Homo sapiens: one gene and its partner. Changing the gene in region 2 together with the main gene of any one other region gives a genetic interaction. Each region holds a gene or a part of one and is shown on either strand. Other genes may lie near its edges.

The links. Genes that interact genetically often act in the same process or in processes that back each other up.
Region 1: changes in SLC30A6 (region 2) and GBF1 together harm fitness less than expected from each alone (positive genetic interaction), as found in Homo sapiens cells (one study listed by BioGRID).

The regions. Positions count from the first base shown.
Region 1 is NC_000010.11:102,359,564-102,367,531, forward strand, and holds part of GBF1 (Golgi-specific brefeldin A-resistance guanine nucleotide exchange factor 1), read left to right. Parts: intron 1-620; coding exon 621-832; intron 833-1,458; coding exon 1,459-1,557; intron 1,558-2,154; coding exon 2,155-2,349; intron 2,350-2,911; coding exon 2,912-3,101; intron 3,102-3,692; coding exon 3,693-3,833; intron 3,834-4,146; coding exon 4,147-4,235; intron 4,236-5,833; coding exon 5,834-6,036; intron 6,037-6,819; coding exon 6,820-6,943; intron 6,944-7,521; coding exon 7,522-7,647; intron 7,648-7,914; coding exon 7,915-7,968. UniProt on the Homo sapiens protein: Guanine-nucleotide exchange factor (GEF) for members of the Arf family of small GTPases involved in trafficking in the early secretory pathway; its GEF activity initiates the coating of nascent vesicles via the localized generation of activated ARFs through replacement of GDP with GTP.
Region 2 is NC_000002.12:32,160,472-32,169,806, reverse strand, and holds the start of SLC30A6 (zinc transporter 6), read right to left. Parts: upstream 3,944-9,335; 5' UTR 3,907-3,943; coding exon 3,904-3,906; exon of another isoform or gene 3,618-3,903; intron 1-3,617. UniProt on the Homo sapiens protein: Has probably no intrinsic transporter activity but together with SLC30A5 forms a functional zinc ion:proton antiporter heterodimer, mediating zinc entry into the lumen of organelles along the secretory pathway.

The DNA.
Region 1 (7,968 bases), on a different chromosome or scaffold from region 2:
GTCAGGAAATGGAGTCAAGCCATAGACTGTTGGCATGGAGGGAGCCCTTCCCTAACTTATACTACAGGGAGGAAGTTTGATGGGCAATAGGAAGCAAGAAGGAAGGGAAAAAAGCTTAGGACTTTTAACAGAAAGGTAGGATCATCAATTCTGATTTCCTCCAGAAGTAGACTAGTCCCCTCATGTCCCCAGGAAAAAAAAAAAAATCCTTTTCCTTTTTTTTTTTTTTTCCTGTCGCCCAGGCTGGATTGCTGCAGTGGCACAATCACAGCTCACTATATCCTCGACTTCCTGGGTTCAAGCAATCCTCCCACCTCAGCCTCCCAAGTATTTGAGACTATAGGCATGCACCACTGCACTTGGCTACTTTTAAAAAATCTTCTGTAGAGATGGGGTCTCTCTGTGTTGCCTGGGCTGGTCTCAAACTCCTGGCCTCAAACAGTCCTCCCACCTTAGCCTCCCAAAGCACTAGGATTACAGGCATGAGCCATCACGCCCAGCCCTTTTCTTCAAAGAGAATCACTTACCTAAAATTGCCTTGTGTAATGCAGAGCAGGCTAGGCAAAGCCAGCAGACTAGTTGTTTTATAGCAGTCTCACTCTCCTCCTGGCCTTCCCCAGGCACAGCTTTGGTCCCCTATGGTCTTCCCTGCATCCGCGAGCTCTTCCGCTTCCTCATCTCCCTCACCAATCCACACGACCGCCATAACTCAGAGGTTATGATTCACATGGGACTGCATTTGCTGACAGTGGCCCTTGAGTCAGCCCCTGTAGCCCAGTGCCAGACCCTCTTGGGCCTCATCAAGGATGAGATGTGCCGTCACTTATTCCAGGTAAGACAAGATTGCTAGAGGGTCTCAGAGCCTCTTTCAAGGGCCAGGGGAACACAGGGAGGTCTGGCTGATTACGCAAAGAGTATAGGACCTAGGAAAGCATCTCCCTCCCAGTTGGCTAGTAGTTTTAGTAAGAGGGTTCCAGTAGTTCCCCAGGGACTCTGGCAGCCAGAGAGAAATATAGGAATGGCTAGATGTAGAGTTCCCTGGAAGCAATGGACCTCAGTGACACCTTCACTCAGTTTGCCTCTTCTGCCTCTCTTGGTTGAGCCATAGTCAGCTTCAGAAACCTCACAGCCGGGCTGGGTGCAGTGGCTCACGCCTGTAATCCCAGCACTTTGGGAGGCCAAGGCGGGCGGATCACGAGGTCAGGAGATTGAGACCAGCCTGACCAATGTGGTGAAACCCAGTCTCTACTAAAAATATCAAATTAGCTGGGCATGGTGACGTGCGCCTGTAATCCCAGCTTCTTGGGAGGCTGAGGAAGGAGAATATCTTAAACCCAGGAGGCAGAGGTTGCAGTGAGCTGAGATTGCGCCACTGCACTCCAGCGTGGGCAACAGAGTGAAACTCCGCCTCAAAAAAAAAAAAAAAAAACTCATGGCCTACCCTGCTCTCATCTCCAGCTACTCAGCATAGAGCGACTAAACCTTTATGCTGCTTCCCTGCGAGTATGCTTCCTACTGTTTGAGAGCATGCGAGAGCACCTCAAGTTCCAAATGGAGGTGAGTTTCTTGATGTGGAAAGAAAAGGGGGAAAAAAAATAGGGAGATATATGGCATCTTCAGTGGGGCCAGCTCTATCATGCTACAGGGGTAGGATTTAGGGACTTCCTATAGGAGAGTCCTTTTAGCCTCCAGAGTTCGGTTCAATCAACTGGCCTCTTTTGTGGAAAAGTTAAAAGGAGACCAAAGGAAACTGGCTGACCCCAAATATGAGAACTGCCAGGTAACCTTACCATGAATAGGGACAGCTCTTCTGCCCAGCAGTTACTCTGCAACACAGGTAGGTAAGTCAAGCCAGCATTGTCACTAAATTGCTAAAAGGAACTCTAAATAGGACCAGGTCATGTTCACATAGCACAAAAGGGCAAGAGGCAACTTGTCTGGGACCAGGTATGTGGTAGAGAGCCAGGCCTTATCCCCCAACATGGAGGCCAAAGAAGAGATATATTTAGGGGATGGAATACCTTTGGGTGTCTCTTAATACATGCCTCTAGGCTGGGCTTCTGCATCCTGTTTAATGTTTTTCCTGTCTAATTTTTTCTCTTCCTATCTTGAATCCTTTCCCCACCCAAATGGCAATTACTGGGTTATTGCCAGATGTACATCAAAAAGCTTATGGAGATCATCACTGTGGAGAACCCCAAGATGCCTTATGAGATGAAGGAGATGGCACTGGAGGCCATTGTGCAGCTCTGGCGCATCCCCAGCTTTGTCACAGAGCTCTACATCAACTATGATTGTGACTACTACTGTTCCAACCTCTTTGAGGAACTCACAAAGCTGCTGTCCAAGGTGCTGAGCACTATAACTGGCTTCTAGGAAAAAACGCATTATAAAGGAAATCTCCCTGGTGGTAGTGAGGATGTTACATACAGAGAGGGGAACACTTGAGAGCTGGGAAATAGAAGAAAGGCATTTTCTTTTCTTTTCTTTTTTTTTTTTTTTTTTTTTTTTGAGATGGAGTCTCACTCTGTTGCCCAGGCTGGAGTGCAGTGGCGCGATCTCGGCTCACTGCAAGCTCCACCTCCCGGGTTCACACCATTCTCCTGCCTCAGCCTCCCGAGTAGCTGGGACTACAGGTGCCCACCACCACGCCCGGCTAATTTTTTGTATTTTTAGCAGAGACGGGGTTTCACCATGTTAGCCAGGATGGTCTCGATCTCCTGACCTTGTGATCCACCCGCCTCGGCCTCCCAAAGTGCTGGGATTACAGGCATGAGCCACCACGCCCGGCCAGAAAGACGTTTTCTAAGGGCAATGTACAAGTTAGAAGAAGTTTTGGAAATTTTAGAAAATGATCAAAGTGTAAAGTGTTCTCCTAACTACAAGTCCAATTGATCTGTTTACTTTCCAGAATGCCTTCCCTGTGTCTGGTCAACTCTATACAACACACCTACTATCTCTTGATGCCCTATTGACAGTGATTGACAGCACCGAGGCCCACTGCCAGGCTAAAGTCCTCAACAGCCTCACCCAGCAAGAGAAGAAGGAGACAGCCAGACCAAGCTGTGAGATAGTAGATGGCACCCGAGAAGCTAGCAATAGTGAGAGGCATTTCTTTCTTTGATGAACCCAGTGTTCTATGCTTATCCCTTCTCTACTCTCTGAGTCGTTTTTCCTGTCCCCATATCACTTCCCCTGGGATGCTCCCAATTCTGTTTCTGGGCTTTGGCAGTTTAAATCACAGGCCAGTCAGGCAGATTAGTAGAACTCATAGCCTTCTCCCTTTTTCCTCCTCCCCACTTTGGTTTTTTACAGAATTATTATTTCTTTATGGCAAGAGAAGAGAACAGAGATTAAAGAATATAGGATTTCTGTCTCTGAAAGCTCCAGGTCCCACCATCCCTCATCCCCAATATCTGCCTCCACTCTAATTAGTCCTCTCTAGCTCCCCCTTGAAATTTGAGGTTGCAGAAGATCAGGGAAAGTGACTGGGTAATCTCTTCATTAAATTAGAGAATCTAATGCTTGGCTGGGACAGGGACTACTTATTTTGGCTTGGGTTTGTCCTGCTCAGGGCTGGCGCCCTGTGCAGGAACCATGCAGGTCTTCTGGGCTTGGGATTTGATCTATCCTGCAGCTCTGCTTGGCTTCATACCCTATAAGTCTTCACGTATCTTCTTCTCTCTTACCAGCTGAGAGAACTGCCAGCGATGGGAAAGCTGTAGGCATGGCCTCAGACATCCCAGGCCTGCATCTGCCAGGTGGAGGGCGGCTGCCACCAGAACATGGGAAATCAGGATGCAGTGATCTGGAGGAAGCTGTTGACTCTGGGGGTGGGTACTGGGTGTCCATGACCCTAAGCTCCTCACCTGGAGGGCCTGGTGAAGAGCAGAGGGAGGGAGCAGACACCTAGGATAGTAACTAAGCAAGCCTTGGTAGCCCGCCTCGCCTTCAGACTCAGAGAGAGGGAAGCAAACATATGGACCCTCAGTTGATAGGACTTCCAGGGAAGTGGAAGACTGGTGAGGACAAGATTTCTGAGGCTCCTTCTTGAAACTGGGGAGTATATTGGTGACCTTCCAAAAGTCCTTATCTGGGTAAAAAAAGGTGTTACAGATATTTCCCCCCTCTTCTTCCTACTCCTAGCTGACAAAAAGTTTGCCCGGAAGCCACCCCGATTTTCCTGTCTCCTGCCAGATCCACGGGAACTAATTGAAATTAAAAACAAAAAGAAGGTACATACATGTATTCCCCAGCCTCTGTCCACCTCTGTCTGGGTGTCCAGTGTTGTAGGGTTTCCATCTCAGAAGATGAAGGAGAGTCTAGCACCTCATTGTACAGCTTCCTGAGGCCAGTCTTTGGGCTTGTTGGGACTTCAGCAACTCCCATTTGAAGCCCTTCCCTTACTCCTAAGCTATGTAGTTGAGCATACCCTATGTATGCCCCTGCGCAAATGCTGTACCAGTTGAGAGCCAAGTGTCACTAGTGGCAGTGACAGGAGCCTTGGGAGTTGGTGTCTTGTGGGTCATTGAAGGTTACTGTCATCTCCAGCTCTTGCAAGATGATTGGCAATAAAGGGAAATTGATATTCATTCTGGTGCTTTAGTAAGGTTCAAATAGTAAGGTTCAAATAACTGTTTGTACTTTGGATTTCTTTTTTTTTTTTTTTTTTTTTTTTTCAGACGGAGTCTCTCTCTGTTGCCTAGGCTGGAGTGCAGTGGCATGATCTCAGCTCACTGCAACCTCCACCTACCGGGTTCAAGCAATTCTTCTGCCTCAGGCTCCCAAGTAGCTGGGACTACAGGCGTGTGCCACCATGCCTGGCTAATTTTTTGTATTTTTAGTAGAGACGGGGTTTCACCGTGTTAGCCAGGGTGGTCTTGATCTCCTGACCTCGTGATCTGCCCACCTTGGCCTCCCAAAGTGCTGGGATTACAGTCGTGAGCCACCATGTCTGGCCTGTACTTTGGGTTTCTTAACACAAAGAAAACCTAACCCTTTCTGGCCGGGCGCAGTGGCTCACGCCTGTAATCCCAGCACTTTGGGAGATCGAGGTGGGCAGATCACCTGAGGTCAGGAGTTTGAGACCAGCCTGGCTAACACGATGAAACCCCGTCTCTACTAAAAATACAAAAATTAGCTGGGCATGGTGGTGCATGCCTGTAATCCCAGCTACTCGGGAGACTGAGGCAGGAGAATCAGTTGAACCTGGGAGGCAGAGGTTGCAGTGAGCTGAGATCACGCCACTGCACTCCAGCCTGGGCAACAGAGTGAAACTCCATCTCGGAAAAAGAAAAAAAAAACCTAACCCTTTCTTTCTCTTATTGCCAGCTTAAATGACTTTGGTTCATGTGTGCCCTTGAGTACCTGGCCGTGACTGGACATACAGAAATATGAGTTGCCTCCACAGTTAGTCCACTTTGTCTTTCAAACCCAGGGCATTAAGCTAGGCAACCAAAGAAGCTAAGCTAGGCTAAAAACAAGAGGCTGGCTATCAACAAATGTCAGGGATGGATATAAAACTGGAGAGAAGAATTACCTAGTTTCTTTCTTCTACTTTTCCCCCAATCCTAAGTTAGAGAAGAGGAACTGTTTTATGTATCTTGAGCACTCAGGAAAGGAGTAAAAAAGAGCTCGTAAGCCAATTCAATTAGACATGAAGATGGGGGAAGCTAAGGCCATTATGATCTAGCCTTAGTTCTGTAATCACTAAGAACCACATCCTAGGAGCTTTTTAGCTGACCAACTGTGGGTGGGCTATGGTGGACTCCAGGCTGGCCTTGTCTAATTTAGAGGCAAAGTAGCTTCTATACCTCTAGTTTTTCTCATGCAGCTGCTAATCACTGGCACAGAGCAGTTCAATCAGAAACCAAAGAAGGGGATTCAGTTTCTGCAAGAGAAAGGCCTCCTCACCATCCCAATGGACAACACAGAGGTTGCTCAGTGGCTCCGAGAGAACCCTCGGCTGGACAAGAAGATGATTGGAGAGTTTGTGAGTGACCGCAAAAACATTGACCTGTTGGAGAGCTTTGTGAGGTGAGGAAGCTGTAAGAAATGTGGGATATAGCCAGGTATGGTGGCTCATGCCTGTAATCCTGACACTTTGGGAGGCTGAGGCAGGCAGATCACTCGAGCTCAGGAGTTCAAGACCAGCCTGGGCAACATGGTGAAACCCTGTCTCTACAAAAAATACAAAAATTAGCTGGGCATGGTGGCATGTGCCTGTAGTCCCAGCTGTTCAGGAGGCTGAGGCAGGAAGATCACTTGAGTCTGGGAGTTCGAGGCTGCAGTGAGCTGTGATCATGCCACTGTGATAGAGTGAGATAGAGTGAGATAGAGTGAGATCATGCCACTGTGATAGAGCTGTGATAGAGTGAGACCTTGGCTCAAAAAAAAAAAAGGTGGGACATGGTTAGTGATCAGTTTAAAGGGACAGAACATCCCTACCTCAAAGCGGTCTCTATAAATTTCTTCTGGAGACCCTAGCCAATGTTCTTCCTCTACCCATCATTTATATCTATTGGACCTGAAAGGGACTCCAACGAGATAGTTTGGGGAGCCCCCTCCATTCTGCATGGAGTCCATTCCAAAGGGGTAGAGCAGGGTTCCAGGGGGTGAGGGTTCTAGGCAAGAGTCCGTGGATGTGAAAAGTATTAAGGCTAGGGGTTGTGTTAGGGATGAACAGGAGATACTGCCCCTTTACTAGAGACCTCAGCCTCCTCTCTTCCAGTAAGAGTAGGTTAGGAGGACAGTGACTAAAAGAGCCTGACATGTGCAGCTTACACATTTTCAGCCTCTTCTTCCTTTCTTTCCCTATAGCACCTTCAGTTTTCAGGGTCTGCGACTGGACGAAGCCCTCCGCCTCTACCTGGAAGCCTTCCGTTTGCCTGGGGAAGCACCAGTCATCCAGAGGTTGCTGGAGGCATTCACAGAGCGTTGGATGGTGAGTTTGAGTGTCAGGGGCTGAGCCCAGGATCCAAGGTCAGTTTGACTGAGGGCTGAAGAATCCAGCTGCTGTCTCTTTTTTTTTTTTTTTTTTTTGAGACAGAGTCTCGCTCTGTCACCCAGGCTGGAGTGCAGTAGCGCAGTCTCAGCACACTGCAACCTCCACCCCCCGGGTTCAAGCAATTCTCCTGCCTTAGCCTCCTGAGTAGCTGGGATTTCAGGCACCTGCCACCAAGCCTGGCTAATTTTTGTATTTTTAGTAGAGATGGGTTTTGCCATGTTGGTCAGGCTGGTCTCGAACTCCTGATCTCGGGTGATCCGCCCACCTCGGCCTCCCTGAGTGCTGGGATTACAAGCGTGAACCACCGCACCCAGCCTGCTGTCTCTTAAAAAGTCAGAGAGCAAAATTAGTGACCTTTCCACAAAGAGATCAGCTTCTGTTAAGGAGTTGGCAAGAGACTGGCCACTTTCTGGATGGTACCTCTCCTCTGTACTAGCACTGACCAGTGGGTTGGTAGTGAGGGTTTAATTGGCCAGAGAAGGGCATTGACACAGGCGGGATCTTTGCTTTTTCAGAATTGTAATGGCTCCCCATTTGCCAATAGCGATGCCTGCTTTTCCCTGGCCTATGCTGTCATCATGCTTAATACTGACCAGCACAACCACAATGTTCGTAAACAGAATGCACCCATGACCCTGGAGGTAAGCTTGGGTCCCAGTCAAGGCAAAGAAGACCCAGCACAGCTTGGGAGGTAGCAGGAAGGACATAGGATTTCCAGTGGGCATGATGGATGGGGTTCTGTCCAAGGGAATCAGGAAGGGCTGGCCAACCTAGAAAAGGGACTGGGGTGGGGAAGTGGGTTTTTTCGCTTACCTTTTCCTAAGTCCTATTTACTGAAAACCCAGGAGTTCCTTAGGTGGGGCTTCAGTGTTGACACAAGGGGAAAAAACTTACTGGCCTGTCTCTAGGAGTTTCGCAAAAATCTGAAAGGTGTGAATGGAGGCAAGGACTTTGAGCAAGAC
Region 2 (9,335 bases):
CTCTCCCTATACACAGTCACATCCATCTCTTGAACCTCAGTTCCAGCTGCTTTTGAGGAGGACAGTCTGATTTTAAATATAGGCTACACGGCAAACAGGATATTCACTCTGTCGCAGCCCCATTCTGCGGTGAAGGAGTAGCTGGGACTACAGGTACCCACCACCACGCCCGGCTAATTTTTTTTTACCTTTAGTAGAGACGGGGTTTCACCGTGTTAGCCAGGATGGTCTTGATCTCCTGACCTCGTGATCCGCCCGCCTTGGCCTCCCAAAGTGCTGGGATTACAGGCGTGAGCCACCGCACCCAGCCAATAAATATATCTTTTTCTTGGCTGGCCATGGTGGCTCATGCCTGTAATTCCACCACTTTGGGTGACTGAGTCAGGAGGATCAGTTGAGCCCAGGAGTTCAAGACCAGCCTAGGAAATATACTGAGACCCTGTCTCTACAAAAAAATTGAAAAGAAAAAAATTAGCCAGGCATAGTGGTACATGCCTGTAGTCCCAGCTACTCAGGACACCAAGGTGGAAGGATCGCATGAGCCCGGGAAGTCAAGCAGTGAGCCAGGTTCACACTTTACTCAAGCCTGGGCAACAGAGCGAGACCCCATCTCGAAATAAATAAATAAATACATAAATAAATGTACATATGTATAAATATTATATATATGTGTATGTACATATGTATATATATTCTTTTCTTAAAGAATTATGTGTGAGTTATTTTGGTTCCAAAGATTTAAAAAATTCTCCTTAATACTGTTATTTTGGACATCTTCTGTTTAACCCTAGCCAACTTTAAGTTTCAGGTTAAGAGAATCAACAAGGTTTCTAAGAGGCAGAAAGCCACTTCTGATGCCATCCTGACAATGAAAATAAAACAAAAATCCTAATGTCATATCACTCTTCCCAAAATTATATTGGCTCGCCATTGCTATCAGAATAAACTACAAATTTTACAACCTGAATTTCCAGGTTTTCAATGACTTAGCCTGTTTCTTTCCAGTCTTATCTCTTACTCCAGATAGAAACCCTCAACTTCAGTTAAACTGGTCTACTCTTTTGTCTCATGACCACTCTTGCGTGAAAAGGCCAGATCTGTCTAACCCAAGCTCTTATTCATATAATGACAAACAAGTATTAGATTAAGAGTATTAGAGTGGGGCACAAAGTACTTAGTTTCATGTTTCACTTCTTAAATGAAGTCTTCCTAGATCATTCCAAACTATAGTGTTTTTTATGCCACTTATTTTGCATTAACCAAAGTAAAGCCTTCAACTTGTTACATTGCTTTGTAATTTTAGTAACTTCACTAATGACAAGGGCTATTTTCCTTTATATTTTGTTTTTATATACTTATATTTTTAATATTATATATTTATATTATTTATATTTTCTAAGAAGGCACTGTTTTCACACAGCATGTTAATAAACACAAAACCTTTTTCTCAATATTTTATTTTAAAATATTTATTTTAAAAAATAAACCTTAAATACTGTTTCCCTGCATGACTAATACTGATGTTTCAAGCATAAAGATATAGTGCCATAGGTTTTCAGTGCTTTATAAAACAGACGTTTTATTTGTATTTTTCTTTATATTTTCTAAGAAAGTACTGTTTTCACATAGCATGTTCTTAATAAACGCAAAACCTTTTCTCAATATCCTTTAAAATAAACCTTAAATACTGTTTCCCTGCATGACTAATACTAATGTTTCAAGCATAAAGATATAGTGCCATAAGTTTTCAGTGTCTTATAAAACAGATGTTTATTGAAAACTTCCTCTGGGCCAGGCACGCTACAAAGCTCTGGGAATTAGGGTGAAATACATAGGTCCTGCTCTCAATGAGCTTACAGTCTAGAAAGTGAGAAAGACAAATAAGTACACAACTTTAACATCGTCTGTAAGGATTACAGATGTTACTGGTAAAAAACACAAGAGATTCAAGTTTTACTTTCTTAAATTAGGGCTGTGAGTTAATGAAGGTGTATAATCTGAAAGACCTCTGAATTTTAAGTCTCTTATCCCTTTATCTTCAACTCCCTTCAAATCATCAGTATTATAGGCAAGTTAAGTTTCTATTGTATGTATTCGTTTTGTGCAGCTTTATGTAACAAAACTGGTGTGTGTGTGTGTGTGTTTGTGCATATAAAAGCACAAGGTACCACCAGAGCACAAAGGAGAAGCAACTAAGAGGATACTGGAACATGAGGGAAAGGTTCATGAAAAATAATTAAGGATATATAAGGGTTATTCTGATAAGGACAGCCGATAGAGAACAGAGAACAATTCTGGGGATGGAAGAGCATATGCAAATTAGGTACAAAGGCTCAATTAATACAGCATGATTTGCAAGCTATTCACTGTGGCTGAAATACGGATGTTGCATACATGTATGCATTAAAAAAAAAAAAAAAAAAAGAGTTTGTGGCCTGGCACGGTGGCTCACGCCTGTAATCCCAGCACTTTGGGAGGCAGAGGCGGGAGGATCACCTGAGGTCAGGAGTTCGCGATCAGCCTGACCAACATGGAGAAACCCCGTCTCTACTAAAAATACAAAATTAGCCAGGCGTGGTGGCGCATTCCTGTAATCCCAGCTGCTCGGGAAGGTGAGGCAGGAGAATCGCTTGAACCCGGGAGGCGGAAGTTGTGGTGAGCCGCGATCGCGCCATTGCACTCCAGCCTGGGCAACAAGAGTGGAACTCCGTCTCGAAAACAACAACAAAAAAAGAGGCTGTAAAAGTAAGAAGCTTGATAATGAGTGGCTTTGTATGCCATGCTAAACAGGACTTTATCTTGAGTGCTACAGAAAAAAAAAAAAGGAGAAAATTTGAGTAAGGGAGTGATGTGGTCAAATTTTAGAAATATAACTCTGGCTACAGGCTTCACAATGGTGAATGTTTTGAAGAAGAGCGTAACTGAAGGCTATTTGATCATTAGCCAAAAAGTGTAAACTTTTACCCATTTTCTGTGTGCAAAAGGATTACAGAAAATTTACAAAACATAAAGTGTGTGAATGAGGCATTTTCCCGACCATATCCACTTAAGTAAAAAACTTAGTACAGTGACAAAAGCTTAGGCACAGAAATGTGGTCTCTTTCTCATACGTAGGCTATCAATAAGTACTCCATAAATTTTTCTAATAAATGCATTTTCAAAAGGCACACGCCACTTGGACACTTCAAATCCCAACCAACTGCTTATCTTTAAAGTTCAGAGCTATATATTTGAGCTCTAAAGGCAAAGAATGACTAATTCTAACAAATTTGAGAGAAAACACCATATCCCAACAACCATAACGTCTACTGGGTCTTCCATTAGTTTCTACAAACCCAGAAATAAAGCAGCAATAAAATGTCCTACCAACACCTTGACTTTCTGTAGTTACTGCGCTTATGAAATTTGCTGCCGTAATCAGGCTACTTAATATTTAGTAAAGCCAAGTTGCAGAGTGAGACGTCTGCCCTAAAACCCTATTACTAACCTTTTTTTTTTTTTTCCGCTGGCGTTATCGCCACTGCTCTAAGAATCACTATTACAGTTGTTGCTGTGGACTTGTTTTCAGATCTTTTGTTGGTGGCCTAGTTGTTGACGCTGGCAAAAACTTTTATTACCTTAAAGAAATCTCGGCAGAGGGAAGTCAGAAACTCGCCAGGAGCTGAAAGCTCTGCCTGCAGCGGGGCCTAGATCGTGAGCGCCTGCGGAACAGGTGAGGGACCGAAAGGGACCAGAACTCTGAAGGGGAACATTTTGGGAGACAGCCGCTCCTGCCAAGGGGCCCGACTTCAACTCCAATGACCCCTCCTCTGGGTGGCTGAGGGATTTCAAGGTCGCTTCGGGACCAAATAAGATAAACCGAATCAGCTACAGCCGAAACCCTCACCCCAACAGCCAACTCACCATGATAAGGAGCTGCACAGCTCCCGCCGGAAGCCGTTCTGGGTGCTCGAGTTTTCCCAGAACGGAAGGGGTGGGGCACCAGTGGGCGATTGGCTGTGAGGAAAGCGTGGGAGGAAGTGCGTGCTCTGGCCTCCGGCTTCCGTCCCCTTCCCGGCTGTCCCTGCACTCCGTGGCGGAAGGCGGCTAGAGCGGCTCCCTCTGAGCTCTCCGAGAGATTGGTCGGGACCTGAAGCGTTGAGGTTAAGGGCAAGGCAAGGAGCAACGAGGAGTTTTTCGTTACGTTAGAAAAATTTCGTTGCGTGCTGAAGCGCTTTTACCTGTGTTGTATGATTTAACCTTATGAAAATGGACAGTATTCCAGTTTTACAAGTGAGGAAAGAAGATTAAGAAACTTGCCTCCGCCAGGCGTGGTGGTTCACTCCTGTAATCCCAGCACTTTCGGCGGCGAGGCAGGCGGATCACTTGAGGTCAGGAGTTCGAGACCAGCCTGGCCAACATGGTGAAACCCCGGCTCTACTAAAAATGCAAAAATTAGCCGGGCGTAGTGGCACGCGCCTGTAATCCCAGCTACTCTGGAGGCTGAGGCAGGAGAATCGCTTGAACCTAGGAGGCGGAGGTTGCAGTGAGCCGAGATCGCGCCACTACACTCCAGCCTGGGCGACAGCGCGAGACTCCGTCTCAAAAAAAAGAAACTTGCCTTGAGTCCTACATATAGTTTGCTGTAGTAGCAGAATTTGAACTCGGACCGACTAATGGTCTACTTAATAAAATGCTATTTGGATTCTCTATAAAATTAATAATATAGAAGTAATGTTAATTATAGAAAACTTGGAAAATATTAAATTCATTCGATAAAGATTGAATATGTAGCACGTGTGTTTGTCAGATACTGGTCTCGTGAAAATTATATTCTGGTAGGGAAGACAGAAAACAAGTAGGGATAAAGAAATTTTTAAAAGATATTCATAAGTAGTGTCGTGTAGAAAACTGGGTATAGGTTGAGTATCCTTCATCCCAAATGCTTAAGACCAGAACTGTTTCAGATTGTGGCTCTTTATCTTGGGGATGGGGCCAGAGGCTAAACTTGAAATTCATTTATGTTTCGTATACACCTTATGCACATAGCCTCAGGGTAATTTTATGCAATTTTAAAAATTGTGTGTGTATCAAACAAAATTTTGACTACAGCTTTTTACATGCGGTCAGGTGTGGAATTTTCCACTGTGGCATCGTGTTGATGATCAAAAAGTTTTGATTTTGGAGCATTTTAATTTCAGATGGTTGGATTAGGGTTGCTGAACATGTAATGGTATACAGAACAACTGAGTAGGTGTGGTGCTCACGTCTGTAATCCCAGCACTTTGGGAGGCCTAGGCGGGCGAATCACGAGGTCAGGAGTTTGAGACCAGCCTGGCCAACATGGTGAAACCCTGTCTGTACTAAAGATAAAAAAAATTAGCTGGGCGTAGTGGCGGGTGCCTGTAATCCCAGCTGCTAAGAAGGCTGAGGCAGGAGAATTGCTTGAACCCGGGAGGCAGAGGTTGCAGTGAGGCGAGATCGTGCCCCTGCTCTCCAGCCTGGGCAACAGTGCAACACTTCATCTCAAAAAAATAAATAAGAAGTAAAAAATAAATAAAATCGTAGGTATTATCATCTATCGACAATCTGTTCTCCACACTGCAGCCACAGTAATCTTTTTTAGTAGAGGAGAGGTCTTGCTATGTTGCGCAGGCTGGTCTGGAACTCCTGGGCTCAAGTGATCCTCCTGCCTCAGCCTCCCAAGATGCTAGCATTACAGGCATGAGCCAACACCCCTGTCCTATACCTAGGATTTAATGAACATTCAATATGTGGTAGGCAGTATTCTAAGAATTTGAGGCCAGGCACAGTGCCTCATGCCTGTAATCCCAGCACTTTGGGAGGCTGAGGCAGGCAGATCACTTGAGGTCAAGAGTTTGAGATCAGCCTGGCCAACATGGCAAAACCCCGTCTCTACTAAAAATATAAAACTTAGCCGGGTGTGGTGGCAGGCACCTGTAATCTCAGCTACTCGGGAGGCTGAGGCAGGAGAATTGCTTGAACCCAGGAGGCGGAGGTTGCACTGAGCTGAGATGAAGCCTGGGTGAGAGAGATTCCATCTCAAAAAAAAAAAAAAAAAGCCGGGTGCAGTGGCTCATGCCTGTAATCCCAGCACTTTGGGAGGCCAAAGCGGGTGGATCACGAGGTCAGGTTTTTGAGACTAGCCTGGCCAACATAGTGAAACCCCGTCTCTATTGAAAATAGCCAGGTGTGGTGGCAGGAGCCTGTAATCCCAGCTACTCAGGAGGCTGAGGCAGGAGAATCACTTGAACCTGGGAGGCAGAGGTTGCAGTGGGCCGAGATCGTGCCATTGCACTCCAGCCCAGGCGACAGTGCAAGACTCTGTCTCAAAAAAAAAAAAAAAAAAAAAAAGCACGATTATGTGTTAGCTCATTTAATCCTCATAACAGCCTTTGACATAGGTACTACTATTATCCCCTGCTTGGGAAAATCACACACCTAATCAGTGGCAGATTATAGACACGTGCCACCACGCCCGGCTAATTTTTGTATTTTTAGTAGAGTCAGGGTTTCACCATGTTGTGCAGGCTGGTCTCAAATGCCTGACCTCAGGTGATCTACCTGCCTTGGCCTCCCAAAGTGCTGGGATTACAGGCATGAGCCACTGCACCCGGCCTGGAGAGGTACCTTTAAACCATATAAATATCACATTCCTCATTATGCTTGTAATTTGTTTATGTTTGTATTCATATATTCACATGAGCTCATGGTTTATTTCTTCTGATGGGTTATAATTAATTACTACTATTACTTATTTTGATGCTCAAATTTGTCCAGTGGGAACCCTTTTAATCTGTGTGTCATTTCAATGATTCATCCTCATCAATCTTTGGGCACTTTTTCTCTCTGGCACAAGAAGTTCCACACTCATGTATTTTCTCTGCCCCAGCCCTGAATTTAGCCATTTTATCAAAGAGTCTTGGTTCCTTTAGTTGATGTTATGGACTGAATATTCGTGTCCCTCAAATTCATATGTTGAAGCCTTCACCAGCAATGTGATGGTCTTTGGTGATTCAGCCTTTGGGAAGTACCTAGGGTTAGATGAGATAATGAGGATGGGACTGTCATGATGGGATTAATGCCCTTTTAAAAAGGGACACCAGAGAGCTTGTGCTGTCTGCCATACAAGGACACGGTGAGAAGGTGGCCATCTGCAAGCCAGGAAGAAAGCCCTCACTAGAAACCAAACTGGCTGGTACTTTAATCTTGGACTTCCAAGCTTCTAGAACTGTGAGGATAAATTTCTGTTATTTAAGCTGCCCAGTCTATGGTATTTTGTAATGCAGCCCAAGCAGACTAAGACAGTGAAGAATTTGGAAGGCAAGATATGGGTACTTTATGTGCTCATTATTATTGGAGCATAACTGCTCCAAGGCCACCTTGGTGGACAGACTAGGGAATATACATATTTGGACACATACACACGTGTATATTTATATGCTTATATGTCCTCTATTTTTATTTGAGGCAGGATCTCGCTCTGTTGCCCAGGCTGGAGTGCAGTGGTGCGATCTCAGCCCACTGCAACCTCTGCCTCCCAGGTTCAAGTGATTCTCGTGCCTCAGCCTCCCAAGTAGCTGGGACTACAGGTGTGTACCACCACACCTGGCTAATTTTTGTATTTTTACTAGAGATGGGGTTTCGCAGTGTTGGCCAGGCTGGTCTCAAACTCCTGATCTCAAGCGATCTGCCCGCCTCGGCCTCCCAAAGTGCTGGGATTATATGCGTGAGCCACTGTGCCCAGCCGATATTTCATCTATTTTTATAGATTTTAAACCATGAATTCACTTTCTTAAACCCAATTCAAGCTGAACTCCAGGTTTCATTCTAGTTTCCCCCCTTTCTGTATTTATAATTACCTTCTCTGTGGTTAGTATATTCACTTTATTCCATCAAGTCTTTGGTGTGCAACCAATCTACCATCTCTGCTGACACCCTTACCCCATATGGACACCCCTTTCTGTGCTTGAGCTTATTCCTCATTCCAGGTTGCCCCTATCCACCATGTGAATAACTGCCTCAATCTGTCCCTGACACCTCATACCTAGCTGTCCATCATTGTAGACACTGTCTTCACCCTATTAGGTCTCTGACACCCAAATTTGGACTTCCATAGGTCCCCTCTACCCAATGTAAGCACATTGATCTGAACCACTGTGCAAACACGTGCCTGGGACTGCTATCCCCAGAAAGTCCTGCTGGCAAGGTTGGCCCTTGCCAGGCATCTGGGAACTTGAATTTGAGGGGAGATTCCCTCTATTCCCTAACAAGCTTACTATGTCTAACAGTGAGGCTTAACACTTTCACATGCTGTCACTTGTTGCTGGAGTGACATCCTGTGTGACTTCATTAGGAGAGAACCCTTAGAAGCTGGTGCTTGGTTTCCTCTGGACTTCACTTAATTCCTTTTTTCCCTTTGCTGAATTTGCTTCATATCCTTTTGCTCTAATAAATCATTGTTGGGAATAAGACTATATGCTGAGTCCTGTGAGTGCTCCTAACGAATCATCAAACTTGCACATAGTCTCGAGGGCTTAACCACCTAATGACTTTAAAACAATAGTTCTGGCAGGGTGTGGTGGCTCTGCCTGCCTGTAATCCCAGCATTTTGGGAGGCCGAGGCAGGAGGATCACTTGAGCCCAGGAGTTTGAGACTGCAGGGATTTTGAGACTGATTACGCCACTGCTGTCCAGCCTGGGGCAATAGAGACTCTGTCTCTAAAAAAAAACCTCAACCCCCTGAAAAAAAAAAAATCCACAACAGTTCAGGAAGGAGGAAGGTAAGCAATTTAGTGACATTATTAATTTCAGCTCTTCCATCCCACTGTTTTATCTTACACTTCTTTGCTCTGTTTTTCTTTCCTTGATTTCATTTGACTAATCACATAATTCTTAGTGACCCATTTTATCTTCTCTAATGGCTTTTTAGATCTACTGCACCCCAGTGATGGGGTGAGAGATTACAAAATGCATTCTTATCACAATCTACCTTACACTAATGCTATCTCACTTTGTGTACAATATAGTAATATTATCTCAATATAATTACATTTATTGCCCTCTCTGACCCTTCATGCTATTTCTGTCCTATATTTTACTTATACATATATTATAAACACTGCAATACTATTTTTGTTTGCTTTAAACAGCAATGATATTTAGAAAAATAAAAAAGAAAAATGTCTTTCTTATTTACCAACATGTTTATCATTTCAAAATTCTTAATTCCATCCTGGAGATACAGGTTCCCATTGGGAAATCCATTTACTGATAAGTCCATCCAAGGAAAATTTTAATTTCAGATACTACGTTTTTCACTCCAGATTTATATT